Linked DNA regions of Homo sapiens: regions 1, 2, 3, 4, 6 and 7 are each linked to region 5. The links come from fine-mapping of genetic effects on gene expression. A gene starts in region 5. Each other region holds a variant in brackets. All regions are shown on one strand. Distances are from middle to middle. Region 1 overlaps MVB12B (multivesicular body subunit 12B). Region 2 has its middle 30 kb from the start of MVB12B. Region 3 overlaps MVB12B (multivesicular body subunit 12B). Region 4 overlaps MVB12B (multivesicular body subunit 12B). Region 5 holds the start of MVB12B (multivesicular body subunit 12B). Region 6 overlaps MVB12B (multivesicular body subunit 12B). Region 7 overlaps MVB12B (multivesicular body subunit 12B).

Evidence for each region. PIP is the estimated chance that this variant, and not a neighbour inherited with it, causes the effect.
Region 1: its variant is fine-mapped to the expression of MVB12B in whole blood (INTERVAL, PIP above 0.99). The same link has a PIP of 0.9 or more in monocytes after LPS.
Region 2: its variant is fine-mapped to the expression of MVB12B in whole blood (INTERVAL, PIP above 0.99).
Region 3: its variant is fine-mapped to the expression of MVB12B in blood mononuclear cells (TOPMed, PIP above 0.99). The same link has a PIP of 0.9 or more in whole blood.
Region 4: its variant is fine-mapped to the expression of MVB12B in whole blood (TOPMed, PIP 0.98).
Region 6: its variant is fine-mapped to the expression of MVB12B in esophagus mucosa (GTEx, PIP 0.98).
Region 7: its variant is fine-mapped to the expression of MVB12B in lung (TOPMed, PIP above 0.99).

The regions. Positions count from the first base shown.
Region 1 is chr9:126,452,965-126,456,964 of GRCh38, reverse strand. The region is part of intron 7 of MVB12B (multivesicular body subunit 12B); the gene reads right to left. Among named protein-coding and RNA genes, the nearest start is that of NRON, 44 kb to the right of the region's middle. The variant T/A (reference allele first, on the strand shown) is at 2,388.
Region 2 is chr9:126,294,274-126,298,539 of GRCh38, reverse strand. No RefSeq gene overlaps it. Among named protein-coding and RNA genes, the nearest start is that of MVB12B, 30 kb to the left of the region's middle. The variant C/T (reference allele first, on the strand shown) is at 2,372.
Region 3 is chr9:126,442,997-126,446,996 of GRCh38, reverse strand. The region is part of intron 7 of MVB12B (multivesicular body subunit 12B); the gene reads right to left. Among named protein-coding and RNA genes, the nearest start is that of NRON, 34 kb to the right of the region's middle. The variant T/C (reference allele first, on the strand shown) is at 2,444.
Region 4 is chr9:126,390,200-126,394,199 of GRCh38, reverse strand. It overlaps MVB12B (multivesicular body subunit 12B), which reads right to left. Exons shown (of 10, transcript NM_033446.3): 5 at 2,005-2,134. Among named protein-coding and RNA genes, the nearest start is that of NRON, 18 kb to the left of the region's middle. The variant G/A (reference allele first, on the strand shown) is at 1,829.
Region 5 is chr9:126,324,362-126,328,599 of GRCh38, reverse strand. It overlaps MVB12B (multivesicular body subunit 12B), which reads right to left and starts at 1,771. Exons shown (of 10, transcript NM_033446.3): 1 at 1,590-1,771. The coding sequence starts at 1,670. RefSeq lists an enhancer at 554-1,205 and a silencer at 1,647-1,786.
Region 6 is chr9:126,411,069-126,415,068 of GRCh38, reverse strand. The region is part of intron 6 of MVB12B (multivesicular body subunit 12B); the gene reads right to left. Among named protein-coding and RNA genes, the nearest start is that of NRON, 2.6 kb to the right of the region's middle. The variant T/C (reference allele first, on the strand shown) is at 1,888.
Region 7 is chr9:126,346,230-126,350,229 of GRCh38, reverse strand. All of the region lies in intron 2 of MVB12B (multivesicular body subunit 12B), which reads right to left. Among named protein-coding and RNA genes, the nearest start is that of MVB12B, 21 kb to the right of the region's middle. RefSeq lists an enhancer at 2,529-3,489. The variant G/A (reference allele first, on the strand shown) is at 1,865.

The DNA of each region.
Region 1 (4,000 bases), 130 kb before region 5:
AGGACTCTTGACACTGCTTCAGGACGAAGCCGGGGCCCATACGTAGACTCCCAAGAGGAAAGGAGGTTCCAGAATTGTAAGACGCTTACTTTTTCTTTTATAAACTGAAGTTAAACAGGGGCGCTATCAGCAGCCTGCTGCTGGTGAAGTAATTACTAGATCAGCTGAAGAAACTCGAGGGGAGCATGGCTCTTGCACAGAACACCCTGCAATGCAGATGGACATGGCCTCTAGGAAGGAGATGCCTCAGACCCCATATCCCAGGAGGAAAAGGAAGCTGCGCGTTCAAGGTGGCCAAAGAGTAACTGATCCTTTCCTCTCCCACTCTCAGGCAGTCTTTATGATTCAGTCAGGCTTCAACCATATTCCGAGTATCTGAGCTGGAAGCAGGGAGGGGCAGGATGAGAACCCCAGCCAAGTATCCCGTCAGCTTGTTAGAAAAACCCTGGGGCTTGGCTCAATTCTTTTTTACAAAAAGAAAACTCACAGTTAAAATCATTATTAGCAATGATGTAACATATAAATTTATTTTAGTGACAAAATTTATTTAAATAACTTTATGAATGATGTCAGTTTTTATTTATAGAACCATTAGTTCTAACAAGTTCACCTGAATGTTTCATATCTACATTACTACATTCTGTGGGAGAAATCGTGTGCGAAAGAGCTATTTTTAAATTTGGAGATTTGGGAATATCTTGGAGGTAAGTATCCAACAAAAACATTTAAGGTCTAATTACTGTATTGGGAAGAGATGTTCAAGATAACCTATCAGGCGGGGCGTGGTGGCTCATGCCTGCAATCCCAGCACTTTGGAAGGCCAAGGTGGGCGGATCACCTAAGGTCAGGAGTTTGAGACCAGCCAGGTCCAACATGGTGAAACCCCGTCTCTACTAAAAATACAAAATTAGCTGGGCATGGTGGCGGGTACCTGTGATCCCAGCTACTTGGGAGGCTGTGGCAGGAAAACTGCTTGAATCTGGGAGGTGGAGTTTGCAGTGAGCCGATATCACACCATTGCATTCCAGCCTGGGCAAAAGAGCAAGACTCCGTCTCAAAAAAAAAAAAAAAAAAAAAGAAAGAAAGAAAGAAAACGACCTATCAAAGTTTATTGTCTTAGAACCACCACGACAGCAAAACTGTAACAGGGAGCATTAGAGGCTCAAATACCCACTTCAGTCAGGCTTAGTGGTTTGCACGCCTGCAATTCCAGCACATTGGGAGGCTGAGGCAGCTGGATCACTTGAGCCCAGGAGTTCAAGGCCAGCCTAGGCAACATGGCAAGACCCCATCTCTATAAAATATCAAAAAAATCAGCTGGGCATGGTGGCACACGCCTGTGGTTCCAGTTTCTCAGGAGGCTGGGGTGGGAGGATCACCTGAGCCTGGGAAGTCGAGGCTGCAGTGAGTGATGATCTTGCCACTGCACTCCAACCTGGGCAACAGAGAAAGACCCTGTCTCAAAATAAATAAAATAAGGGCCAGGCACGGTGGCTCACACCTGTAATCCCAGCACTTTGGGAGGCCGAGGTGGGTGGATCACGAGGTAAATCGATCGAGACCATCCTGGCCAACATGGTGAAACCCCGTCTCTACTAAAAATACAAAAATTAGCTGGGCGTGGTGGCACGTGCCTGTTGTCCCATCTACTCGGGAGGCTGAGGCAGGAGAATCACTTGAACCCGGGAGGCGGAGGTGGCAGGGAGCTGAGATCACGCCACTGCACTCCAGCCTGGGCGACAGAACAAGACTCCATCTAAAATAAAATAAAATAAAATAAAATAAAAAATAAAATAAAATAAAATAAATTCACCTCTAGCCAGCTCGCAGGGTCTTACTGGGAGCTGTGGGTCTTACTGGGGAGAGAGCTGAAGCCCGCTCACCTTTAAGGGGCCTAGAAATAGGGTTTTGGCCCAGGTAGCCCTGCCAGGACGTGGTTCAAGATCCTTCCTGGAATCGCCATCATGGTGCATGCTCGCTCATCCCCGGAGTGGCTGCCCTGCGCACCCACAGGCTCACAGGAGGGAAGGGAAGAAAGGGCTGCCCAGTATTCCTATCAGTGGAGTCTGGTGGAGAGCGGCACGTGCATCTCTGTGGTGTGTTGTTACCATGTGTCAAAGCATTTAAAGAACATTGATTAAGGAAGCATTTTCCTGGCTGGTTAAAAAAAAAAAAACTCAATTATGGTCATCGACCCCTACCAGAAGGCTATTCACTGTATTACGTGGCATGCACATTATGCAGTGCTTAACAAAAGTAAAATGAAAAAGAAGAGGAAAACATTCACTTCCATCTCACTTATTTAGTTGGGTCTTTATGGGGCTAAAGCCATGCAGGGGTTAAAAAATGCAAGGTCCATACCCCTGGCCACTGCAAATGTATCCTGA[T/A]GCTTGAATAGGGCACTCCTTTGGCTAAGACCAGGGGCCACCTTTCTACTCGCCCAGCCCCAGGCCACCTGGGTGTCCCGCTTACTGAGCCCGAGGCTCAATGGGATTAGCTGCAGAGTGGTAAACAATGCCTACACAGGAAACATTTCTTCCCATTAACAAAAAAATCAATTCTGCCCCACTAGGCTCTAGCTGAACACAAATGAATTAGGGGGATGAAGGAAAGAGGCTGGAACAACACACTATTGGTGGTTGTGAGCTGGTGCAGCATTTAGGAGAACAAAGTGGAGGCACGGTGGGACCCTGGTGGGTCAGGGCAGCAAGGGGCAGGGTGAACACATTTTAACAGCCAAACTTCTCCTTTCACACATGTGTAAAACCTTTGGAATTCCATCAGAAAAAACTTTATTTCAAAACTGATCTTTGAAGTTTGAAAATAAAAGAAGAAAGCCTATTTCTCAGTACAGAAAGCAGGTTTTAAAATGCTGAAGGGACCAAAGGGAGGTGCTAGCAGGTGGTGGTGGCACTGACTCTGAGGTCCATGCCTCTCCTGTCTCCCGGTGCTCTCTGCTTTACCGCGTCTGTTTCTCACTTAGACTTTCCCTGATGGGACACCAGACTTCCATCTTGCCTCTCTCATTGTCTTTTGCCCTGTTGGGGCCTGGTGAGCCCTTGTCCCAGCCCTGGAAGGTAATCTGGATGGTATCCTTGATGATCCAGAGAGGAGGGGAGGCCACCTGTGTATATGTCATGTGTGCACACATGTGAGCATGCACACGTGTCATGTGTGCACATATGCATGTGAGGCTGTGTGTCACATGCAAGACCATGCACACGGTATGTATGTACACGTGAGAGTGTGCCACACGTGAGTGTATGCATGTGCCACGTAACGCATGTGAGATTGTGTCCATGTACGAGTTATGCACATGTGAGAAGGGGCATAGTGAGAAGAAAGAAACCGCAAGAGCCTCATGGGCAAGCAGAGGCTGAGCCTGTGTAATGAACACCTCTTCCAGGAAGCAGCCGGTGATACACAGGCCACTGCTGTTGGCAACGGATTCCTCTACAGCCCACACAGGCAGAAAGAAGTCACTAGGACCTCCAACCTCAGGTATGAAAACAAAACTCCATACTTGAGAAGGGAGAAGGGGCAAACAGCAACACTCCTGAGCTCTGGGAGTCCCTTCTGCCCAGCCAGGCCCTGGTCTGCTCCGGGTGCTCAGCTGCTTCCCTGCTTGCAGCTGGACCTTTCACCCCTCCCCTGCTTGCTCACCCAGTTGACAAGTTCATGTGTCCTTGACAATGCACTGGGGTGGGTGGGGATGCTCACGGGGAGGTGGCACGTCTGTGGGGTTTTCTGGCAAAAATAGATGCTCACTAAAAACCCGCTGAACTTGAAGAAATAGGGATTTTATCTTTCTCACATATTTCACAGCTGACAAAGCACTTTCAGCAAGTCTTCTCTTAATTAGTCTTTACCACAATCCCGGGAGGCAGGCATTTTCAGCCCCTCTTGATAGAAGACTGACTTGAAGCTCAAAGAAGGTGAGGGGCTTGTCTCGGGGGCAGAGCTGGGACTTGAGTCCAGAGCTTTTAAAAATTAAACCTCA
Region 2 (4,266 bases), 30 kb after region 5:
CTGTCTCTGCCGAGCCAGCAACTGCGAGCATTGCTATTCTCTGGCCAGACCCCGTGCTCCTGGGTCAGGAGGAGGGAGGCAGCTGAGGATGTGCGCAGCACACTTTTTATATATGTGGGGCCATAATATTTAAGTGTCTTGGCTGTAAGCCTGCGACTGGGTCCCCCGACAGCCAAGCCTTGCTCCGCACGCTCTAACAGCTGTCTGTAAAACCCGTTTATGGAGCCTCCATAAATTTCCCAGCTGCTGCAAACACAGGGCTGGGGACAAAGAGTCGAGGGAGGGAGGTGTGGAAGAGCAGCAGCTTCAGCGTCTCCGCTGGCTGGTCCTCTGGGCCCCAGCTTGCCCCCCACCCACCTGGGGCTGCCTTACCCTAAATTCTTTTATTGAAGCTGATCTTAACGTCGACCCCGTGGGGCCTGGCTGGGCGATCCAGCTCACCACAGATGCAGGCACTTTCAAGATTGCAGCAAAAGGTACAGTAAATCAGAATTAAGTGTCATGATAGTGATTTGAACTGACACTGTTTTCACCTTGTCCATTTACTGGGAAATATATAACAGGAATAGATTGAGCCTGTCATATTGTACCTGAAAAATACAGCTGTTAGGGTAGGAAAGGCAGCTGGCACCAAGGCAAGGTCCCAGAGGACAATGGGGTGTGTGGCTGAGCAGAGGGCGGGTGGGGGCTCCTCGTCAGCATCCCGTTGGGATGAAACCGTCCTGGGAGCAGAGAACCAGACTCTGCTTTTCCGAAGGCCCCCAGGGTGGCGTGCCCCCAGCGTGGCATGACCCCACTGCTACAGGGACCCAGCAGCCAGCTCTGTTGCCCTGAGGGTCCAATCTGCCCAGGCTACAGAGCATTACAGAAAAACTTTTTATTGAAGTATAGCATAGATACCGAAAAGTGCACAAATAATAAATATATTGCTTGATGAATCTTACCAACCGAATACACCTGTGTTTCCAACATCCAACTCCAGAAACCACATCACTCGCCCCCAGAAGTCCCCCTCCCTCTGTGTCCTGCTCCAGTCTCAATCCTCCCTCCTCGCACAAGGGGGACCACTATTCTGGTGTCTCAAGCTATGGATTGATACTATATCTGGCATTTTAATGAGGTCATTTTGAAATTCCCACCTGTTTTATAAAGTGGATTTTGAAATTCCCACCTGTTTTTTTTTGCCCCCCCCCACCCAAAGAAAACAGGAACCTCTCAGCTTTGAAATAATCATTATTATTATTTTTTGAGACAGGGTCTTACTCTGTCGCCCAGGCTGGAGTGCAGTGGCACGATCTTGGCTCACTGCAATCTCCAACTCCCAGGTTCAAGTGATTCTCCCGCCTCAGCCTCCCGAGTAGCTGGGATTACAGGCCCCACCACCTGGTCCGGCTAATTTTTGTATTTTTAATAGAGACAGGGTTTCACCATGTTGACCAGGTTGGTCTCGAACTTCTGACCTCAAGTGCCTGCCTCAGCCTCCCAAAGTGCTGGGATTATAGGCACGAGCCACCGCGCCCGGTCAGCTTTGAAATAATTTATAAGGAATATGAACAACAGATACCTTCCTCTCTCTTCCCAGAGCCTTGCTGAATCCCAACCCCATTCCAGAGGCAGTGTGGGCGGGAAGGATGGGGAAGGATCTGGGGTAGGGTGTGGGATGGCAGGGTTGGAGCGGGAGTCAGAAATGGGGTAACCAGATGTGGGAGGAGAGAGGCTTAGAACTGGAGTGGACTGAGGAAGGGGTGAAAAGACAGGGAGGGGCTGAAGCCCAGAGATGGAAGAAATTTCAGGATGGAGTGAGGCTCAGGAATGGGGTCAGGGACAGGGTAAGGGTCAAGGATGAATTGAGGGTCAGGTTCAAGGCAGCTTCAGAAACAGGGTGGAGCCTTGCGCAGGTGGGGCTCAGGGAGGGAGCAGGTCAGAGGGCATGATGTGTCCATCCTTTACAATACAGGAAACTGCACACGATGAGGTCCTAGAGCCAAACTACAGGTAAAATGCAGGGGAGAGACGAGCTTTTCTGCAGCCAGGGCTTAGGCTCTTCCCACCCCATACTTCCAGCTCCTGGCAGCCCCAGGCGTGGGTGGGTGGCTCTGCCTACCCTGCCTTTCCCAGTGGGAGCCCCAGGCCCACCCTTACTGACTGGAGAGTGGCCGCTTGGCCACAGCACCATCGGCAGGTGACCTTCAATGTTACTCTTAGCACCCTCCGCTCTGGCTGTGGGTCTGCTTAGATCTGGCTCTTACCCTTGTCCCTCTTCCTGCAGGGCCTGGAGCTTGAGCTGGAACCCACGCTGCTTGTCTGGGGCTTGAGCCGCCTTCATCACGCATGCCAGCTCACCCCTGAGTCACACCTGCTCCCTGAGCCT[C/T]TGGCTCGGGGCCTCCCACAGATGGATCACCTGCTGTGTACCTGACTCCAAGTATATCCTGTGGTCGGGGCGGGGGGCACCCTCAGCGGGGAGATCCCTTTCGGGTGTGGACATCCATCTTCTCCGTCTCCATCTGGAGGCCAGCCCAAGCTGCCCCACAGCCAGGGTCCACACAGCTCTGGCCGCCCCCTTCGAGCAGGAGACCCCTGGTTTCCTTCTGGTTGATTCTGTCCCATCCACATTCCAACTCCACTTCTGCCATCAGCCCATGGGCACCTGCTGGGCAGGATGGCTGCTCTCTTTTTCCTGGCTTTGGCCTTCAGTGCTTTGACTTTCAGCCCTGGATTCTTTCCACCTTTGGCCACCTCAAGGAGGACTTGTTCTCAGGACCCACACTAGGGGTTGGACTGGCTTCTCCCTAGGAAGCACTGTGCTAAGGGCAAGATAAGGTGCTTCCCTCTCCTTGGCGAGACTCTCCTTGAGCACCCAGGCCTCACCCACATTCTCACTGAAGCACCACAGTCCCCTTGTGGGAGGTCAGCTCCCCACAGGACTGCAAGCTCCAGGAGGACAGGGACCATGTTTGCCTTGTGTAGTCCCAGCACTTGGCTCAATGCTAGGCACAAAGATGGCATTTTACAAATAGCAGTTGAATGTCTGCATGATGAATAGCTAAAAGCACAGCTTGGAAGCTAGGGAAATCTAAGGTTGAATCTTGACACCTCCACTCAGAGTATCATTTAACTGCTCTAGGCCTCACTTTTCTCTCCTGTAAAAGGGGATCATACCTCCTTTCACACGAGGCTCTGTGAGGATCAGGGGCAACAATGCATATTGATGTTTGGCACCATGCCTAGCACATGGCGAGCACTCAACACATGATACTGGGTATCGTTTCTATTTTCTCTTACCACTAGACCAACCACTGGTGTTTCTGTTCCTAGAACCACTTGGTTCCACACCCTCCATTTCCACTCCACAGAACTTTGGAGGTTCTAGGTTGCCTTCAGCAGGCATCTGATGCTAGCCTGGCCACATGCTCACGCCCTCCTTGGGCTCACCACAAAATGTTGGCAGACCCCGCCCCTTCCCTCTGATCCTCAAGAGTCCCAGCTATGGGAGGCAGGGCTGGAGAAGGCCTATCCCTCCTTTACGGAACCCTTTCTTCCCATCTGCTAGGCACTGACCTTGCCTCCCTGTCTCTGGCAGGCAGTCCAGGGTCAGCTCCAGGGGAGTAGCGTGACAGGGGAGCTGGGGTCCGATGGCTGGCCATGGGGAGCCATGGTTCTGCTGATAAAGGGTCTTTATCGAGCTCCCTCTGCAGATGTGGGCTGCATCATTCACGGGACTCGGGATGGGAGCCCATTCATCTGGGGCACGGAAGGTGAAGGGGCTGGGATTTCTCATTCGAGGGCGACACGGAGTTCACATCAGGAAATATTAGTCTGATGAGTTCCCTGCAAGTGGAGGGACTGTCAGGCATTAATCACAGCTGAGGGGGAGGCAGCGCTGGGCCCTCAGACAATCCCCCAGGGTCTCATCCTTTCTGGGAACTTCAGAACCTTGCTGGGCCTGAAGACAAGGATTGAAATTACCCTTGGAGGAGCTCAGGCTGCTCTCTGTCACTCTGAAACCTTTCTGCCCCCGGGGCTGGAGCCCTTTGTGAGAATGTGGACCGGTGGCTTCACCCCGAGTCTCAGTTTCCTTGTCTATAAAATGGGCTGGGAAGTACCTCCCTCAGTGGGTGATTGTGAGGCATACAGCAGGCGCTCCATAAATGCTGGTTCCAGCTCCTGCCCCTTCCCTTTCCTCCTCCTCTACTGGACAGTACACCCCTGGATGGCAGGATCGGGTTTATTTCTTATCTCCGTGAGGCCTATATGATGGTAGATACA
Region 3 (4,000 bases), 120 kb before region 5:
CTCCAGCCTGGACAACAGAGTGAGACATTGTCTCAAAGGAAAAAAAAAAAAAAAAAAAGAAAGTTAAAAAAAAGAACTAATACAGATAAAAATTTATTAAATAGTATAAAGCAAAAGTCTAATGGCTTTATAAATTTAAAAAGCAGTTATTTGGAAAGACAAATAAAGCAAATAAATCAACCAAGAAAAAGAGAGAGAAAAATAACATCAGGATATATATGACTATAGGTATATTAATTTTAAGATAAATACAAACTCTTAAGTAAAATTTTGTACCAATAAACTTTAAAATTTAGATGAAATTTAGGTGAAATTGCTATATTTTCTTTAAAAAAATACACATGATAAAACTGGCTCAAGAAAAAGTAGAAAGCCTGAAAAAAATCACTAATGCTGAAAGAAACTGAAATAGTTGTCCATCTCCTCAAAATGCCCCTAGCTTCCAGGTCCACATAGTTCAGACAGGATTTTTTTTTTTTTTTTTTGGTGTTCTTTTTTCCCCAAAATGAACAGCCATTTAAATATTTTAGAAATATTTTTATATTTGAAAAAAACTTAGATCACACAAAAATTACATTTTGATAAGCAAAAAGCCTAATCTTACTTATATAAATGCCCAAATCCTAACTTAAATAGCAGTGGCTCAAATCTAGTACTATATTTAAAGAAGAATGCACCATAATAAAGATTGATTTCAGAAATATAACAATAACTTTCTAAATGCTAAATCATCAAAACAAAATAATCTGTATCTGTCAATAAGTGAGAAAAAATATTATACTACATTAAAATATTCCAAATTTTTTTATATGAAACTCAAATTAGTGCCTGAATTTATTAAAAAAAAAATCTTTGGAAAATAGGAATAGAGAATGGGTCCTTTAATACAATCAAGCCCTCTCTCCTCCAAATTCCCCCAAATCTATATCAGACTTAACCATGGGACACTAGAAGCATTCCCATTAAAGTCAGGAACCAGGTAAGAATGAAAACTACTGCCACTGCTTTCAATGTTTTAGCCAAAAATACAAAGCAAGAAAAACCAATGGTGTATAAATGTTATCAAAGAGACAAAATGATCTGTATTTGCAGATGATGTTGTCTTCCAAGAAAATCCCAGTAAATAAACTGGAGGCTATTGGAAATAACAAGCATACAGAGAGGTGGCCAGTTACCAAATGAAGATTAAAAAAAACAACAGGGCCAGGTGGAGTGGCAGAAGCCTGTAATCCCAGCACTTTGAGAGGCTGAGGTGGGAGGACTGTTTGAGGCCAGGAGTTTGAGACCACCCTGGCCAACACAGTGAGAACCCCCATCTCTAAAAAAGAAAAAAAAAGACCCAACAATATTAAATTAAATATTTAATCACCAATGAAAACATAATGGGCAATGCAGGCTGGGTGCGGTGGCTCACGCCTGTAATCCCAGCACGTTGGGAGGCCGAGGGGGAGGATCACTTGAGGCTAGGAGTTCAAGACCAGCCTGGCCAACATGGTGAAACCCTGTCTCTACTAAAAATACAAAAATTAGCCAGGTGTGGCGGTGGGTGCCTGTAGTTCCAGCTACTTTGGAGGCTGAGGCAGAATTGCTTGAACCCGGGAGGCGGAGGTTGCAGTGAGCCGAGATCGCACCACTGTACTCCAGCCTGGGTGACAGAGTGAGTCCCTGTCTCAAAAAGAAACAAAACAAAAACCAAAACCAACATAATGGGTAATGCAACAAAATTTAAAACTTAGGAATTATATAAACAGAAAGCAAAGAAAACTATAATATGTTACTGAATAATATACAAAGACATTTGAATAGAGAGTTATATCTCTGGAAGGAAAGATTGGATATTTTTCTAAATGACCACTCTCCCCAAATTGACTTATAACTTCAATGTTTTTTTCAATCAAAATCCTCAAAGTATTTTCCTTGGAACTTAAAGTGATTCTAAATTTCTACTGGGTAAAAAAGTTATTATTACCTGGAACATTCTGAAAAATAACTACAAAGAATAGTAAGATAAGAAATTAAAATACATACATTTATAATTATTAAAAGCGTGACCCTCCCATTGGAATATGCATTCAACTCAATGGAACACAACACAGGCCACAAAATACATCACAGTAAGAGGTTATTATAGGATTGTTTTCCAAATGAGTTGGTTAAAAGAAGATTATTTAACAAGTGATGCTGGGACAATAATAAATAATTTGGAAAAACATAGATTCTTATCTTGTCACACATCAAAACAAATCACAGCAGAACTTTAGATTTAAATGTTAAAAAAAATGAAGGTACTAGAATATACCAGAAAACCGAGAAGGCTTTTCTAAAACGTGATGGCAAAGACACAAAACATAAAGGAAACATGAAATGAAAGTACAAAGCAGAAACTGGAAACAAGCGGTAGTAATGTGAGAGCAAAAGAAGGCCTTGTTGCAAGAGGAGCTCC[T/C]GCAACTCCACAAACAAAATTAAGACTGCAATGGAAGAGATGCTGCGGACAGACAGGCAAAGGTCTCGAGTAACACAAGTGGCTCAACACAGGCAACCTTAGCAGTAATCAAAGAAATGTAAATTAACAATAAAATACCCCTTCACCTTCCAATTGATAAAAATTAAAAAAAAAAAATTACCAGTTAGCAAGTCTTGTGTGGAAAACCAAACCAAACAAACCTCTTTCATACATGCAGAAGTGTAAACAAATTCAACCATTACGGGGGACAATTTGTCATTATATGTCAAAATAATTAAAAATGTGTTTATATATTTATTTAAAGGAACATTCACCGAAGTATAACTTTTAGAAATGAAGATAATGTAAAAACTCAGCCACTGAGGACTGGCTAGGTAAAGTACATTGTATCCATAAGAGGGAGGATGATACAACCATTAATCCCAGCCTGACGACCACCTGACCTAATGACAAGGAACGAGGTACATGAACAGGTCTCAAAGCAGAATAGACACCTGGAGTGTTGGAAAGGAACAAATTCCTGATACATGCAATAACATGGAAGACTCTCAAAAATATTATGCTGAGAGACACACAAAGCTACATATTGTATGAGTCCATGTATATGATAGCACTGGGCAGGCAAGTGACTGCCAGGGACTGGCGATGGGGAGGGAAGGGCCGGAAATGGAGGCAAGTGAACTTATGGGACTCCTGGCTATATTCTGTATCTTGTTTCTGGAGGCGGCTATCCTGTAGTTTGACATTGGTCAAAAGTCACTGAAATGTGCACATAAAAAGCCTGGATTTTATTACATGTAAATATATTTCAATAAATCTGACTTAAAAAGAACCCAGAATGGACAATTAGGTAGACATACACTTTTAAGTGTAAACATATGGCATAGAAAAAGTGTTAAAAGGACATACACTGAAATACTGTTTCTCTGGGTAATGGGGTTGTGATATTTTCTTTCCAATGTTTTCATATATTTTGTAACTTTTCTACAATGAACATGTAACTTTTATCATTCAGGTAAGAAAAGCTTTGTGTCTGTTTTTTTATTTTTTAAAAGAGGAAGAAATATCAATGAACTGTTTGGTCTAGGAACAAACTTTTTATCAGGCTCTTACCGGAAATGACGGGTGGGTCATGCTCAGTTGGAACCTCAGTCCCTCCTACCCTGAGGCAAAACCTCTCAAGGCACCTGTTCTAGCCCCTGCAGGGTGCCTGGCCCTCAATGATTGGTGGAAGGATAGAGGGACAGGAGGTCCACCCTGTCCAACAGCTTCATTTTGCAGCTAGGCAAACTGAGTTCCAGAGAAAGGAATCACGGTCCCATGTTTGGAAATGGTCAAAATGGGGCTTAAACCCCAGAAAGTAGTGCTACTTCCACTGTGCTGAACACCCATCAAAATCCCTGAGCTCTCCCAAACACCCCAGGAGGACACAAACTCTTGATGGGTTGAAGATAAAATTCTGCACAGGGAAAAGCTACAGACATTATCGGCCACCAGTGTTTTCTAGACTCTAGGAAGGTGCCTGATGTCTCAGAT
Region 4 (4,000 bases), 66 kb before region 5:
ATGTTTATTCTAACTATTTCCTACTCCTGTAGTCCTGTTTACATAATTAGTGTAAACCGTGTTGCAAAACGGGATTTTTGAGTGTGTAGGAAGGGAATGATCACAGAGTCCTTCTTAACCACATGATCTTGACACAGAGCATTCAGATGCCAGAGCTGAACACCCACCGAGGTGAAACTCTGCATTTCTGTGGTACCTGCTCCCTGCATGCTTCAAGCAAATGCCACGAGGGCTCATCTGCTGTCTCACCGGGTCTAGGCTATCAGAAAGGCCCTGGCTGATACAAAGGCGGCTCTGGGCTCAAATGAACAAGAGTAAAGCAGAGTACAGGCCTGAGCCAGGAGGCTGGCCTCAGAAGCCGAGGAGGACAGGGTGCCTCTGGGAGCCCACAGGGAAACACATGGCCCCTGCCAGCCCTGGCCAGGGAAGACGCACATGGCTGAGGGGGCTGTAAACCATCTGCCACACCGAGTAAAGTGCACACCTGGATTTCAGTTGACTGAAGACAGTGAACATCTATTTCCTTCTGGACAGCTGGCATCCACTCACCCCCTTTCTGACTTTTGACTGCCCCTCCATATTTTAGGAGCAGCACCAGTCGTGGTTTGTCCTTGAGTTCCAATGGAGCTGATCCTACTTCCTGCTCAGGCCTGGTCAATGGAAGAATTTTCCAGAAAACAGTGACAAGCCCAGGGTGCACATGACCCTACCTAGATCAATCAAGACCAATGAGACTAAATTCTAGAACTTCTTTTGAACTGTCAGGAACACAAACTTGCTCTTGGCCTCTGGACTTGAACCTGGATGAAAAGCAGGTGGAGCTACTGTAGCACCAGGCCTCCTCGAGGGGGAAACATGTCAGAACAGAGCCCAGCACCGGAGCCAGGGGGAGACAGGGAAACCAGAACCCAGTGCCGGCCTTCAAGCTTCCGCTTCCAGGCATGCCAGTCCTGCCTCCCCAACTCCTCTGTGATGCCAGCCAATAAATTATTCCTTTTGCTCAAGCCAAACTGGGTTGGGTTTCCTGTCACTTACAATCAACAGAGCCCTAAGTGAAACCCTGGGATTTCACTGTAGTAAGTATTTATGGAGCTGCAACAGAGCCAGGCCCATGCTCAGTGCTGAGGCTGCTGGAGGAACAAGACACAAACGGGCCCAGGCCTCAGCAGTTCTCTGCTTACTGGGGAATTATCATGCAGCTGTGTAATATTTATGTTTCTTCCTGACTTGGAGCCCTCCACTGACTTTCTAGCGTGCTTGGAATAAACTCCAGGCCATGTCCTAGGAGGTCCTGCCAACCCTCGCCCTTGTCCCAACATTGTCCCTGGCTCTTCCAGCTGCACAGGGCTGTGTTCTGCTCCCAGAACGTGCCATGCTCATTCCCACTTCTCTCCTTCTGCTTCTGCTCTGCCTCAAAGACTATGCCTTCACATCTGTGCATGGCTGGTTTCCTGACATTCAGGTCTCTGCTCAAGTGTCACCTTCCTGACCCCCTCACGGAAGAGGCCCCCACTCCATCATTGTGTTTCACTTTCTTCACTGTCTGGAATTATCTCATTTATTTTCTTGTTTATTGCTCGTCTGTCCCTTTTAGAACATCAGCTCTGTGACAGCACGGCCTTTGCCTCACTTATATCCACATCCAGTGGCCTTGGCCCCGTGGTACAAAATAGGTCCCTGTGACCTTTCCTAGGGTGAATAACGAGTGTGAAGAGCTGAGGCCAGTGGCATCACAGGGTGTCGGGGAAGGACCCAGAGGAGCTTCAAGGCTGAATGCGCAGAAGGGCAGGGGAGGAAAGGCCCTAAGGTGGAGTCAGCAGTGCGAGCC[G/A]AGGCTCAGAGAGACCGCAGCTGAGCAGGAAGGGCAGCGAGGAGCACTGGGCTGACAGAGGCCCATGGCTGAGAGCCTGGGGGGCTGCATGGAAATCTCTTGGACCTCATTGCCTGGAGTGGCCTGAGTGCTCTCAGGGAAGAGAAGCAGCTGACAGTCCTGTTATTAAGACTCACCCAATAAACGTGTACTGAGGCGGGGCCTGCTTGGTCCGGCCCATGATCCGAATGTCACAAATCGCAGCTTCCGTTGAATCCCGTGGAATAAATTTAATGCACAGCCTCTTCTTCCTAAAAGCCACTTCCTCTGAAGGAAAGGACAATAGAAAAGGTATGAGTTTTCCAGAGATACCAGAATCTCTATTCTGAAAACCACATCCCCTGTCACGCCCTATTCCTGGCAGCAGAAGTGGCAGGTCACCTAAGCTGCTGGACAGAAGGGCTGCGCTCTGCCGCCTGCCTTCCCCGGGGCTGCAGTCACCCTGCTCTGCATGTGGGACCCAACCCAGACACCCCCTGCTGAGAAGGGGACCACACACCCTGCAGTAAATCTGGGTGGCTTCTAAGAGCCGCAACCACAATCTGCTCACTGCTCAGCCATCAGAAACCTGCACACTGACGCCCTGAGCATTAACACATTTCACCACACGGACTTCTTTTCTTTTTATTACAGAAATCTTCAAACATACCCCAAAGCAGAGAGAACAGTGGAATGAATCCACGTGTTCCCGTCACCCAGTGTCAATGCTGTGCACAATGGACAAGCTGGTTTCCTCTCCTCCCACCCCTGCAGTTTTGCTGGATATTTAAAATGAATCCCTGACGACACTACGTTATGTCACCATCAATACCTCAGTAGGCATCCAGGACACTGTTCTTTAAAGACCACCATGCCATCACCATTCCTAACAAAACGAACAGAATTCCTGAGTATCATCCAACAGAGAGTCTACATCCACGTTTTCTCCAGTCTGTCTGCATCTGGATCCCCAGGATGCTGAAACACTGCCTCTGGGTGTCAGGCCTCCCAGATCATTTGACTCTGGAACAACCACTCCTGTTCCCTTTTCTTCAGGGCACTAACAGGTTGGAGAAATCGGGTCACTCCCCTGTGCCTCCTGTAGGCTGGCAGAGCTAAAGCCTCGATTAGACTCAGGTTAGGTTTTTTAGGCATGCACGCCGTCCGGGGTACACGTAAGTCTAGGCTGTCATATAGTGAGGCCCAGAGTCTGGCTGGGCCATTCTTGCTGAGCTCTGCTGGCGTCGGCCCAGGACCTCGGTCACACAGTTCCCCAACTGCCATCCTCTGAGCACTTTCTCACCCTCTGATGACTGTTGCTAAGATCCATGTTTTATTAAAGGTTCACAATGGTGATTTTTGAACTCTGTCATTCCTTCTGCTCTTTTTTTTTTTTTTTTTTGAGATGGAGTCTCACTCTGTCACCCAGGCTGGAGTGCAGTGGCATGATCTTGGCTCACTGCAACCTCCACCTCCGGGGTTCAAGTGATTCTCCTGCCCCAGCCTCCTGAGTAGCTGAGATGCGTGTTACCATGCCTGGCTCATTTTTGTATTTTTAGTAGAGATGGTGTTTCACCATGTTGGTCAGGCTGGTCTTGAACTCCTGACCTCGTGATCCACCCTCCTTGGCCTCCCAAAGTGCTGGGGTTACAGGCGTGAGCCACCGCGCCTGGCCTCCTTCTGCATTTTTTAGCTAGAATCCTTCTATATGTAAAAAATAACTTTCCTTCATCAACTATTTGGTCTCCCTGAAATAAGTTTTGTATAGGAAAAAAAGGATAAGCACGTGATTCTTTTCTCTTACTTATCAAGCCTTAGAGTAAGGAGTTGGTGCTCTAGCAACCTCCAGTGCTGACCAACGGGAGGTGTGTGTTTGTTTGTGCTTTTAAACCTGAGTTTCAACCAACTGCGGCCATTTAATACACGAGTCAGACAGATCTGGGTTGAAATCCCAACACCAACATTTCCTGGCACTGTGACCTCAGGCAAGTTACTTAATTTCTCTGAGTCTTGGTAAACTGTAAAAGGGAGTTAATGAAACCCACCCCACAGGGATGTGGGTTGGATGCACTGTGCCAACACATATGATCCACTTAGCCCAGTGCCTGGCACACAGTAAGTGCTCAGTAAAGAACAGCTGTGTGGGATCTTACC
Region 5 (4,238 bases):
CTATCATTAGTTTCACTCTACAGATGAGGAAACTGAAACTCAGAAAAGTTCAATAATTTGTCCAAGGGCACAAAGTAAGTAGGAAAGCCAAGACTTAAGCTGAGGGCTAATTCTAAACTCCCTGCACATAACCATGGCACAACATTCCAGTTGGAAGTGGTAAAAGGTCCCTAGCAGGATGGAGACAGGGCAAGAAAAATGCCTTGAACCTAAATTAGGAGTGTGACCTAAAGCCTAGAAGGAAGGAATGAAAAATATGGATTACAGAAGGTAAGTTTAGGTTTAAATGAACCAGTAATCGCCACGTCAACTGCTTCCCATGGGGCTTGGAGCCCGGGTCCCAAGCAGAAGCCTCATCTCTCTGAGGCCCTATTTAAAGATTCTGAGCATGGTACAGTATCTCCAAGGACCCCACATGATTTCTAACAAGCAAGAAAGGTGTCACCATCTACTGTAACTAAACATCCTAGCACATTGAGTTTTTCAGTTAGTCAAGGCTTCACAGAGCTTATTTTTTAACTCTCTAAGCTTTCCTGGTGCCGCTGATAAGATTTCCCAGCCCTGTTAAAACGAGATGAGATCCAGCCAGCTGTCGAGAAATGTACAATGAGATTATACTGAGAAGGAACCACGAGAGACAAAGGCCCCTAAGAGGAGCTGGTCTGCTGTCTGCTTTTGTGGCAGCAATCGGAGTGGGCTCTGGTTCTTGGGTGGGGGCAGGAAGCAGGGAAGGGGCAACCACCATTTGCCTTTTGCCCTCCTGTGGTCTTCCTCAGTGCCTTGTGCAAGAGGTGTTGAGGGGCAGGGAACAGAAGAGTCTCATCTTTCATGGTGAGAAGGGCTGCTGATTTAGAACAGTTGTGTGTTGGTAACAAAGAGGACAAAAGATGCTCTTGGGTCTACCCCGTTCCCTGGTGCCTGCCTCTGAGGATGTGATGTCCCCTGGTGCCATGCCTCAGCTCTTGTCCCAGCCCCTGCTCCTCCCGTCTCGCTGGTGTTGGAGTCACTGTAGGGTGCTCGACGTGCCCACCATGTTCCTGGATGGGTGCTCTGGGTCTCGGGTACCCAGGCTGGGCATGTCACCTTCCAGACAGGTGCCTGAGGGTTTAGGTGTCCTCTCTGCTGTGCCCAGGTCACAGAGGCAGTGATGCTCCTGGGGCAGGTGCACGTTGGTCTGCACCCACGTGACCAGAGAGAGCAGGACCCCAGGCCAGGCCGGTCAAACGATTGACTGTTCCCAGTCTGTGCCCAGGTGGGCCGCCTCCCTCTCACGCGGGCAGAGGTGGCTCTCGGCGCCCCTCACCTGCCCGGGCCTTGGGGGCGCTGCTGGCACTCGGGTCCCCCAGCTTCTCCCGCCTCTCGCCGCCAGGCCGAGCCCGGGCACCGGCAGCCGCGGCGCGCTCGGGGCTCTGCAAAGGCCGCCCGGGCCTGTCCCCGCCGCGGGCCGGGCACGGAGCCCGCAGGCCTCGGCGCGGCCCGGCTCCTCCCGTCCGCCCGCCCCTCGGCCGGGGGCCCGCGCCCGCCCGCCCGCCCTCCCGGCTGCAGGGCCGGCTCCGCCGAGCCTCCGCGGCGCCCGGGCCTCACTTAACTGTTCCCCGCTGGGGCGGCGGCGGCGGTGGCTGCGGCGGCGGCGGGTCCCGGCTCCGTCTCACGCAGAAGCAGCTTCTCATCGCCCGGGCGGCGCGGGAGGGGCCGGGCCCGGGGCCCAGGCGGCAGGAGCCGGCGCCGCAGCTCGAGCGCGAGCCTCACCGAGAGCGGCGGCGGCGGCGGCGGCGGCGGAGGGGCGGGGCGCGGCCTGGCGGCGGCGGCGACAACGGCAGTGGCGGCGGCGGCTCCCTCCGCGGGCCGCGGCGGCGGGCCGGGCTCCGGGCCTCCCGGCGCTGGCGCTGGTTCAGGATCGGGGGAGGCGCCCGGCGCCCGAGGCTGGCTCGGGCGGGAGGAGGGAGAGGGAGCCCTGGCGTCCCGAGCCCGCGCCGCCGCCCCGGCCGGCACCCCGCCTCCCCAGCCTCCCCCTCGACCCAGCCCGTCAGCCGCAGGCAGGGCCCCGGTGCGCCCACCCGGGCCTCCCCGAGCCCGCCGGCGACCCCAGTCCAGCCTCAGGCCCCCGGGAGCCCACGGCCTCTAGAGCCTGGGGCATCGATGGTCCCCGCCCCCAGGCTGGTCTTTTCCAGGGACCCTCAGCCCACTTAGCTCTCGTAGGCCTCGCTGTACGCAAGACCGGTCTTCCGCTCGGCTGCAGATCCCTGGAAGCCCCCAGGCCCTCAGGCTAGAAGTTGGACCCTTCTAAGGACTCTCCGCCCACCCAGCCATTCTAGGCTTCACTGAACCCTAGAATCCTTCAGCTCATCTTCCCCCACCCCCCAGCTCACCTAAGGTGAGCTCAGCCAGTCGTCTCAAACTAACCCCAATTGCCTAGCAATTCTCTTATATTAGTTAGATGATTTATCCCCAGAAGCCTAGAATCAGGTTTATGGGGCCAGCCTCAGGCAAGCATCTAGAAGAAGTTTTTAGCAGGAGTCCTACCCTGCAGTACTTGGGGAAGGCATAAGCCAAGGATAAAATGGAGCTGGATGGTTGGGGGAGGGTCCAGAGCTTGACCCTCAGCTAGAGTGGCTGGTAGGAAAGGCGGACTCTGCGCCTTAACCAACCATGCCCCCCACACCGCCCAGCCAGGCACCCCAGGCAGAGGCCAGCGTGTGCAAGATTTGAAAGGTTTCCTGCCAGGAGGCTGGAGCATTCGTTAGGACTTGAGGACCATGCAGGAGTGATCAGCATTGATTTGCTAATGCATTGAGTCTCATTTTCACACATTCTAGGCTTTTCCATAATAGCTGTTTGATCCTAAAGAGAAGGGTGCCAAGCAGAATGGGCTGTCGGGGGAAACATCCTGTAGGGAAGCCATGCACGTGTGCATTCCCAGTGTCTTCACTACTCAGAAATGCCATGGGTTCAGATGGCTTTACAGCAAGCCTTATCCTCCCATCAGGGCACAGATCATCCCTATGTTACTTAAACTGTTACACAGGAAAAAATAAACAAAAGAAACAAAAATTTTTATTTCATTTCCCAAGTTTAGCATAACCCTGATACCAAAATCCAACAGACAATACCAAAAAGAACTGCAGATGACTAACCTAGAACACGAGTCCCCAGAGAATTTAATATTTATTTTTTGAAAATGGGCTTCTGTGGGCAACTTGAGAAAGTGCTGCATGCCGTTTATAGTGTACCTTTTGGAGAATCACGATAAGTATTCGTATATTAAGGAAGGCCTCTGTGAAGTCCAGGAGTAAAGAAACCTGTTTGGTTTGTTTAACCTGGCATTTCCCAAACTCATCTGAGCCAGGACCACCTTCTAAAGCTCACTGATAAATCCTCAATATGTGAATCTGCACTATATATTTAAGTATATAATAGTCGTAAAACTATTAAATACAATTTTAGCCATTTGAATCCAGTTTACTATTAAAGCAACTGAAAACCCACCATGATCAAGCAAGATTTATTCCAGAGGCGCAAGAAAAATCCAACATTAGGGAATTTGTAAATGCATTGCATTGTTAAAGGAAAACAAATTACAGGATATTATCAATGGGATAGATGCTTTAAAAGTATTTTATAAACTTCAAAACTAATGACCCATAAATTTCTAAAAACTCTTAGTAAACTATTATAGGAAGAAAGTTTAAACTTTTAACATGACAAAGTTTATCAGAAGCCATCAACAAACATATTTAATGGTGAAACACTAAAGGTATTCTCATGTAAGTCAGTCAAAAGGATGCCTGCTATAATGGCTATAGAATAAAGCCAATGCAATAAGATAAGAAAAATAAATAAGAAATATAAATATTAGAAGGGAAGAGATAAAATTGTCATTATTTGCTTATGATTTAAGTGTTTCCCAAAAAGTAAAAATAAAAAAAATCAACTAAAAATCATAGAGACTTTGGTAAGGTGGTCAGTTATAAGATAAACACCAAAATCAATGGTTTTCCTAAATGTTAAGGGAGAAGCCTTCTCCTTCCTTCTTCTTCTTCTTCTTCTTCTTCTTATTATTATTATTATTATTATTATTATTATTCTTTTTTTTCTTCCTTACCCTGTCTTATGGTATTGAAGGGAGAAGCCTTCTTTTCCATATAGAGGGACTTCCATTAGAATAAGACTTCTGGCCTCTCTCCACTCTAAGGGAAGATGAGTGAGTTTGGAAAAAGTGGACAAGAATAGATGCTTCT
Region 6 (4,000 bases), 87 kb before region 5:
GAGTAGGTACTCGACAGCATCAAACAAAACCGAGAGGCCGGCTGGGAGTGGGGGCTCATGCCTATAATCCCAGGACTTTGGAAGGCCGAGGCGAGTGGGTCACTTGAACCCAGGAGTTTGAGACCAGCCTGGGCATCATGGTGAAACCCCATCTCTACCAAAAAACAAACAAACAAACAAACAAAAATTAGCCAGTTTTATAATCCAGTCTCAAAATAAATAAATAGATAAAAATTAAAAAAAAAAACCTGAGAGGTCCACGAGAATGATGGTGGCTGGTGCACTTATGGACAGCAGTTTCAGTGGAGTCATTTTAGTGGGCCCGAAGTTGACCACTCTGTAGGCAGATCCATGAGTTTAGATTTTAGGAGAGTTCATAAAGCTCCCCAGCAGACTGAGGAGAAGGAGACTCAAAGGCTCGAGAAACTGTCTCTACTTAGGATAGTGCCAGGAGGTGAAGGCCTTCTGGCACCTTCCCCAGTAGGTCTTGGACCCCTGGAGCAAGGGCTGTCCATCAGAGGACAACCATGTCTGCCACTTGACTCAAATGATGGATTATTATTCCAAAATCTGTTTGGTCACTGGAGAATTGTAACTGGAACAGTCCCTAAATCCTCGGGGAGTGTTACCAAGCTATCCTCCCCTTCCCCCTGCCCACGGAACTGCCCGGAGGAGACAGGGCTCTCACCCTGCTGCTTCTGGTGGCCATCACGTCTCTCTGCAGGAGGGATTGGCTGTTCTGTAACAAACAGGTCAGCAAGCACGCACTGCCAGCGATGACGGCTCCAGCTAAATACATGCTGAGGGGAATTTCATTTTTTCCCCCAAGTCAGTCTTAGGCACCTTATTCAATTAACATGGCCACTAAGCTGCAGACAGCTCCATATAAAAGCCCTTCAGTTATAGAATATATTTTATTATGAGACAATAGTTGCCAGCACGATTTATTTCCTTTGATGGGATTCTGCTTTTTCCTTGTTAATTTAAATCTGTATTTTCTAGTGCTGATTCCAGGTCTGTGTGAATTTTTAAAATGTTACCATTAATCTTGTAGACCCAGTGGCCACATATAATGAAGATGGTTCTGCCCAGGCAGCTGCAGTGCCTGCTGTCCTCCCAGACTGTCAAAGGGCAGCGTCGAGAGAGTGGTGACTAGCAAGGCAGAGGCGCACTCATAGTCAGAGGCACCTGCCACTTTGATCTCCCAACCCTTATACACACACACACACACACACACACACACACACACAACCAATGGGGTTCACAGGATTCCAGAAAATGCAATGAAAAGAGGATACATCCTGGCAAATACTGATGGTGACTTCAGACTTTTCCTCTGCCATACTAAATGCTGGAAGACGACGCAGCCAGTTTTGAAGGTGAAAATAGTTGTGATTCAGCAATTTTGTATGACTTCAAGTTGTCTTTTGTGCAGGAAGACAACAGAAGATTACTCATGTCACCTTCTCTAGGAGAAACACTTAATAATACATTCCAGATGATTCAAATTTAATACTTAAGAAAGGGGAAGTAATGCGACAAAAGGACCAGCATTTATTCTTCCCTTTTTGAGATTTGAGGAAAGAACCTGAAATGTGGGAAATGACCTATTTAAGAAAATTTAAAAATATCATCAGTTGACTTGTTTACAGCGTGTACCTGTCATATGCATCTTATGATCCCTAACCCAATCCTACGGCGAGTTGCTGAGACCCCCCCTACTCCACAGGTGTCTCAGAGAGGCTCCACAGCTTGCCTCTCTGCTGGATACAGCTTGGACTTGAACACAGAGTATGCAGAAGCTTGGATTTGAATGCTGATGGGGCCAATTACACAATTCATGCTCTTAATTATGACGGTCTACTCAAAAACTGGAAATAATGTTAC[T/C]ATGTCTGACTCAGAATATTATGCAGACATAAAATGATGTTTACAGGCTTTGTGGAGAGGGTTGGAGTGAGATGCTCGGGATCTGTGTATGGAATATGATCTCAGCTGTGGAAGGAAAGGACAGGAACCAGGGCCTTGGGGCAGCATTTGTCATGGCAATGAACTGGGAGCAGCCCAATGACCATCAATAAGAGGAGGCTAATAAAATGTGGAATTTTCATATAATACTAAAGTAGGACAGAACGAATAGATGAAGAGAGCCAGAGATTTTTCTGTAGAAATGCCCAACTCCCAAAGACTGGCTGTTAAGTAAAACAAAACCAAAAAACCAGCCAAGCAAAAACAAAGTTGCAGAATGATGTATTATAAACAATCCCATAAGACAATCTTTTTTCCATGGGCACACACGGCTAAGCTACAGTACAGCAAAGGGCTGGAGGGAGTAACTTAGAGGTGACTGAGGGGCAGGAGAGGCTCACGGTATTGACGACAGAAGCCTCTAAGATGGGAGTGTGGATTCTCCCCACTGCTCTTCCATATGTTTTAAGTGTTAATTTTTTTGGATGAGAAATTATTTCTTTTAATCAGAAAAAAAGATGGCAAAAACTAGGGGAACACTTCTCAATGTGGTTGGGAGAGTAGAAGAGACACACGTATGAAAGCATCCAGCGTGGTGGTGCTTGGTGCTGAAGGGACACCTTGTTTTCTATATAATGTGTCTGCTGGTGGACAAAGACCAGAGGTCATGTACAAAGGAGAGGAATGGATTGTGGGGGCAGCAGAAGAAATATGAAAAGCAACAAAAATCAAGTTAAGATAGGAAGGGGAAGAAGAACACAGCAAATGGCTAAATGAAATTCCACATTATTCCTGCAAACACCACTGGGAAGAAGTCATCTGTGACGCACAGCTTCTGTGCCAGGTGTAAGGACGTGCTTAATGAATGCCATTTAATGAAGAAAAAGGCTCTTATAAAACACCTGGCACAAGCAGGGTGCGGGAGTCACAGAGAAGGGGACCTTTGCTGCACCTGCTGGCATTTTAATAAGCACCTTCTAGAGCGCCCGCTCTCCAAGGCTGGTCAATGGTGTCAGAAAGAGGTCCCTGACCATTGCCCACACTTGCTGACAGTTTGGGGAACCTTATTTCTTAAAGACCATATGCTCAGGTATCGGATCACCCTGGAAGGTAATTAAAATGAATCATTTTCAGCTGGAAGGGCCTGACTAACACTCGAATCCTCCTCAATGACTTCACAGCCAGGATTCCTGCTCCAAGTCCCCTGTGTTTCCCAAGTGAGGCTCTGAATTACGATTGAGATCTGTGAAGACCCAGAGATGTGAGGAGATATTGTAATTCTTTCTTGTAACTTGTTTCCGCTAAAACAGAAAGTCAGTTATTTTAATCACTCTAGGCTCTAAAATATTTTCAGTTGTGGTTTTCTTTTCATATTGATTTTGGAGCCAACCTCAGGGAGAAACCACCATGCGCAAAGTTTACTATCATTTGTCACGGTCTGATGAGTCTCTTTTTTGTTTCGTTTTGTAATTGACACAAGCCAAGACAAGTAAGGTTTTGTAAAACTTAAAAGAGACCTATTTCCTCTACAGTTATATTCACTATCTTATAAACCTTCTATGCCCAGACCTAAAACTTAATTCCAAGTATTACCCAGTGAACACAGGCCCATGCCAGGGGAGCTGGACCAGTATCAACAGGCACACAAGGCCGCTATAATTAGGATGTGGCGACTGACTCAGCGCACTTTTTTTATTGTGCTCCTACTGTGTGCTAGGCACTGCCTGGCACCGAGACAGTTTAAGAAACCAAATGAAACGTGTATCTTCCCCTTTAGGAATTTATCCATAAGTCAACTGAAACACGAACATAAATCTCCTATATCACAAAGTAAAAGCTCTGAATATCAAAAGATAGGCCATAAAGGACAATATGGTTATATGCTTCAATTTTAAAACAGTGGCATGAAAAAGAAATAACTGGGTGTGGTGGCTCATGCCTGTAATCACAGCACTTTGGGAGGCCAAGGCGGGTGGATCACGAGGTCAGGAGTTCAAGACCAGCCTGAACAACATGGTGAAACCCCGTTTCTACT
Region 7 (4,000 bases), 22 kb before region 5:
GAATACACAAAGAGCTCTTAAAACTCAACAGTAAAAAAAACAAACAATCCAATGAGAAAATGAGTAAAGGGCATGAAGAAATTTTCATGGAAGACATACAGATGGCAAATAAGCACATGAAAAGATGTTCAACATCATTCATTAACCACTAGGGAAATACAGTGTGAAACCAAATGAATTATCACTATGCACGTGTCAGAATGGCTAAAACAAAAAAATACTGACGATAACAAATGCTGGAAAAGATGTCGAGAAACTGGATCCTCATATATTCATTACAGCTACACCAAAAAGTAGTTTAACATTTTATTTAAAAACTAAACATGCAACTACCATGTGACCCAGCAAATGCATTCCTGGATATTTATCCCAGAGGAATAAAAACACAGCCACATGAAAGCCTTCACCTGAGTATTTATAGCAACTTTATTCATAATGGCTCCAGAATGAAAACAACCAAGATGTCCTTCAATGGGTAAATGGTTAAACAAATTGTGGGATATCCAAACCATGGAATACTATTTATCAGTAAAAAGAAATAAACTATTAACCCACACAATAGACTCTCTGCATGAATCTCAGGAGAATTATGCTGAGTTTTTTTTAAAAGCCAATTCCAAAAGGTGACATACTATAATTCCGTTTATATAAGATTCTTCAAATGCCAGAATTATAGAAATGGAGAACAGATTAGTGGCTATCAAGGGTTAAGGAGAAGGTGGTAGTATAAGGGAAGTGAGTGTAGCTATAAAACGACAACATGAAAGATCCTTATGGTGATAGAAATTGTATTTTGGCAGGTTTTTTCTATATTTTATGAGGCTTTGATATCCTGAGGTCTTGCAGAAGCAGGGAGGGACTGCCCCTCCTAGGTGAATGACTTGCTTGTGTGCATGCCTTGGATATGCAAACCAACCAATACTGAGTTCTTATCTCCATCTGCCTGCTTTCACGGGCTCTTGCAGTCCAGGACACGATTCCCCTGCCCTAAATCACCCCAGGGCCAGGTACCTGACAATGAGGGACTCACCCATGTACCCCAGGACCTGCCAAAATTATTCAAACTTAATCAATCCTAACTGTGCTCACCCTGCTTGACACTGCCCTTCCTGGCTCGTTTCTCCCTGGCTCTCTGTGCTTCCTGACACACCCCACGCTTCCCCACCTATGTTTCCCCACCTGTGCTTCCCCAGGTGGCCCTACAGGGTGTGGCCTGTCTGCTCCTCTTGGGAACTGCGAGTAATAATCTTTCCAGTGGCAATCCTCTCCTCATTTATTGGCCACATCATATATGAATAAAAACAAAAACCTGGGCACGTTTTAAAACAGAAATGTTCTGTATTAATGTACTGTATTAATGTCAGTATCCTGGTTGTAACATTGTACTAGTCTGCAAGACTTTACCATTGGTGGGGGGTAAACAGGATCTCTCTGTAGTACTTCCTACAACTGCATGTGAGTCTACCATTGTCTCAAAATAAAAAGTTTAACTGAAAAAAAAGAAAGAAAAATTAAAGCAAGCGCCTCGTCTTTTTTCAACCATCCAATTAATTGACGTTTCATTATTAGAAGGCTTTTTAAATAGGGAATTAGGAAGTTTTAGCAAACAGAAGGAAGTACCAGAACACTGCCTGTTCCCTACCACTTTCCAAATGAATCAACTACGGAACAAGTCATTAGCGGGAACTTTGGGTCAAAACGAAAAATTCATGGTTAGCAGGGAAGGGAAGCCTAGAAGAAAACAAGACCAGCTCCTCTGCAACCAGGTGCTTTAAGCCACTATTTCTAAGAGGATCACCTAACGATAGCTGATGTTTGCCTCCTGCACACCTCGTGGATGCCAGCACTGTGCTAAGTGTGCCAC[G/A]TGCATTCTCTCAGACCACAGCTCTGCTCCCTTGGGGCCAGGGTGCGGCAGGACAAAGGGGAATGTGGAGGGAAGGACCTTAAAAGAGGTTTGCTAATCCAGGCCACAGGGAACAAAGGCCCAGGGCTAGTTACAAAAACCACTTTCCGCATTTCAGTAAATCTCAGCTTAATGTATTTTCTAACAAAACAAAAAGGAGGAACACCTGGTGCCTTTTATCAAAACAAGCTCTGGTTTTGAAAATAAACCAATCTGTGTGGCAGGACTCAAAGTCTGTGGTTATTTCTGCAGTTAGTAGCCCCACGATAGCAAAGCCCTGTGCTCAGGAAGCTGGGACAGCAAGAACAAGCTGCTGCCCTTGTTTCCTCATTGGCTTCATGGAGGCAGAGTTCCAGGAGGGGCAACTAACTGCCTGAGGCTTTGGGCTGCCGCTATCCTCCAGCCCATGGAGAACGAGGGCAATTTTCCTGCCCCCTGAAAGGCCCCCCACCACAGCTTCGGCTTTCTGAAAATCCATGTGACAGCTGTGCTCAGACGGGATATGCCAATGTCCCACATTTCCACTTGATATCTGCCATATGTTTTTAACAAGATATAGTTGCCATCTTCACATGTTTTTCATAACGTGATTTTTAAAAATTCCTTGAGCACTATATAAAAATGCAAGCTTGTTTGAACTTGTATCACCATTGAGATTCTTTTTCCTTCTCTTACTTTAGTAAGTAAAAGAATAGGACCTCATTTGGAGGTTTGGGATTTTAAACTTATCCCTCCCTATGTTCCCTATACCCAGCCCACTGGCCCAGAGAGAAGCAGACCTCTCCTAGGACCCCCATAGTCCCGCATATTTGCATTCAAGCATTTGAAACTCCAAGTATTCAGGAAATTCCTACTACGTTTTGGGCATATATAAATTATACAGGTCCAGTTGTTTTTTTAAAAAAGGTTCTTTTGTCTAATTAGTTTCAGAAATAAATAGTGTTGAGAGAAAGAGACATGGGGGGAGGCAGGAGCAGCAAAAAAGGGGAAGTGGAGACTCCCAGGGCAGCTGGCCCATGTGCTGCCCGCACAGGCCGAGCCCAAGGCTGGCTTCCCAGCGTGCAGGGGCAGGACAGGGCAAGGGCTAAAGAAACATGACCCGGTGCCCCTCTCAGACTGGGCTCTGGGTCCCAACTCCTCTGCCCCCTCAAGGGCCCTGCCTCATCAGCCAGCCCCTCTCTCCTGTATCTACACCCCTCCCTTTCTTTGGTTCCTTCTCATCAGTAACTAGACACATTCGACACTTTCCTACCTTTAACAAAGGGAGTCATGGCATCCTCTAGCTGGGGTCATGGCATCCTCTAGCTCCCGCTATGCCCTGGCCTCCCCTCTTCAAAGGCCATCTGCACTCTCAACCTCTCGTTGTCACCTCCCACTTACCTTGCAGGTCCACTCTAACCTTGCTTCTGAGCTTGCCACCAAGTTCACAACCATCTCCTTGCATTAAACCCAATGGACACCCTTCAGGCTCCTTTCACTTCGGCAACTTTGAACATTACTCACCACTCCTTCTTACAGAAATACACTTTTCCCCTTAGTTTTCTTTAATTTTCCACCTACCTCTCCAGATGCTCAGGCTTAGTCCCCTTTTGAGTGCCTCCTCTTCTACCCATCCTTAACCAGTGACCCTCCACGGTAGTGGAGTCTGAAATGGCACACCCTCTCTTCTAGTCCCACAACCCTCCCTAGACAAGCCCACTTATGCCCGCAGTCCTTGCTATATGAGGATGGTGCTCAGACCTCTCTCCAGACCTTCAGCCCCAGGGCTCCGCTAGATGTCATACAAGCAGCTCAAACTCAAGGTGTTCAAAACTGACCCAAGAGTCTCCCTCCCGCCTCCACCCGACCTGGCTGTCTCTGCTCCTGTCCCAGCAGAGAACCCCAGCATCTACCCATGGCCAGCAAGACATCCTGTGGCACTCTCATCCTTCCCCTTCCTCCCTACTCCCCCACCTCCCAACATTCAACCCATTCTTGCCATCAAAAATACATATTTGGGTTCCCACGTCCCACGCTCCCACAGCCCCAGGATCCACGTACTGCTTCACATGTCCATTGTCAATAGCCTGGCGCAGGCTCTAGCTCTCACTCTGCACG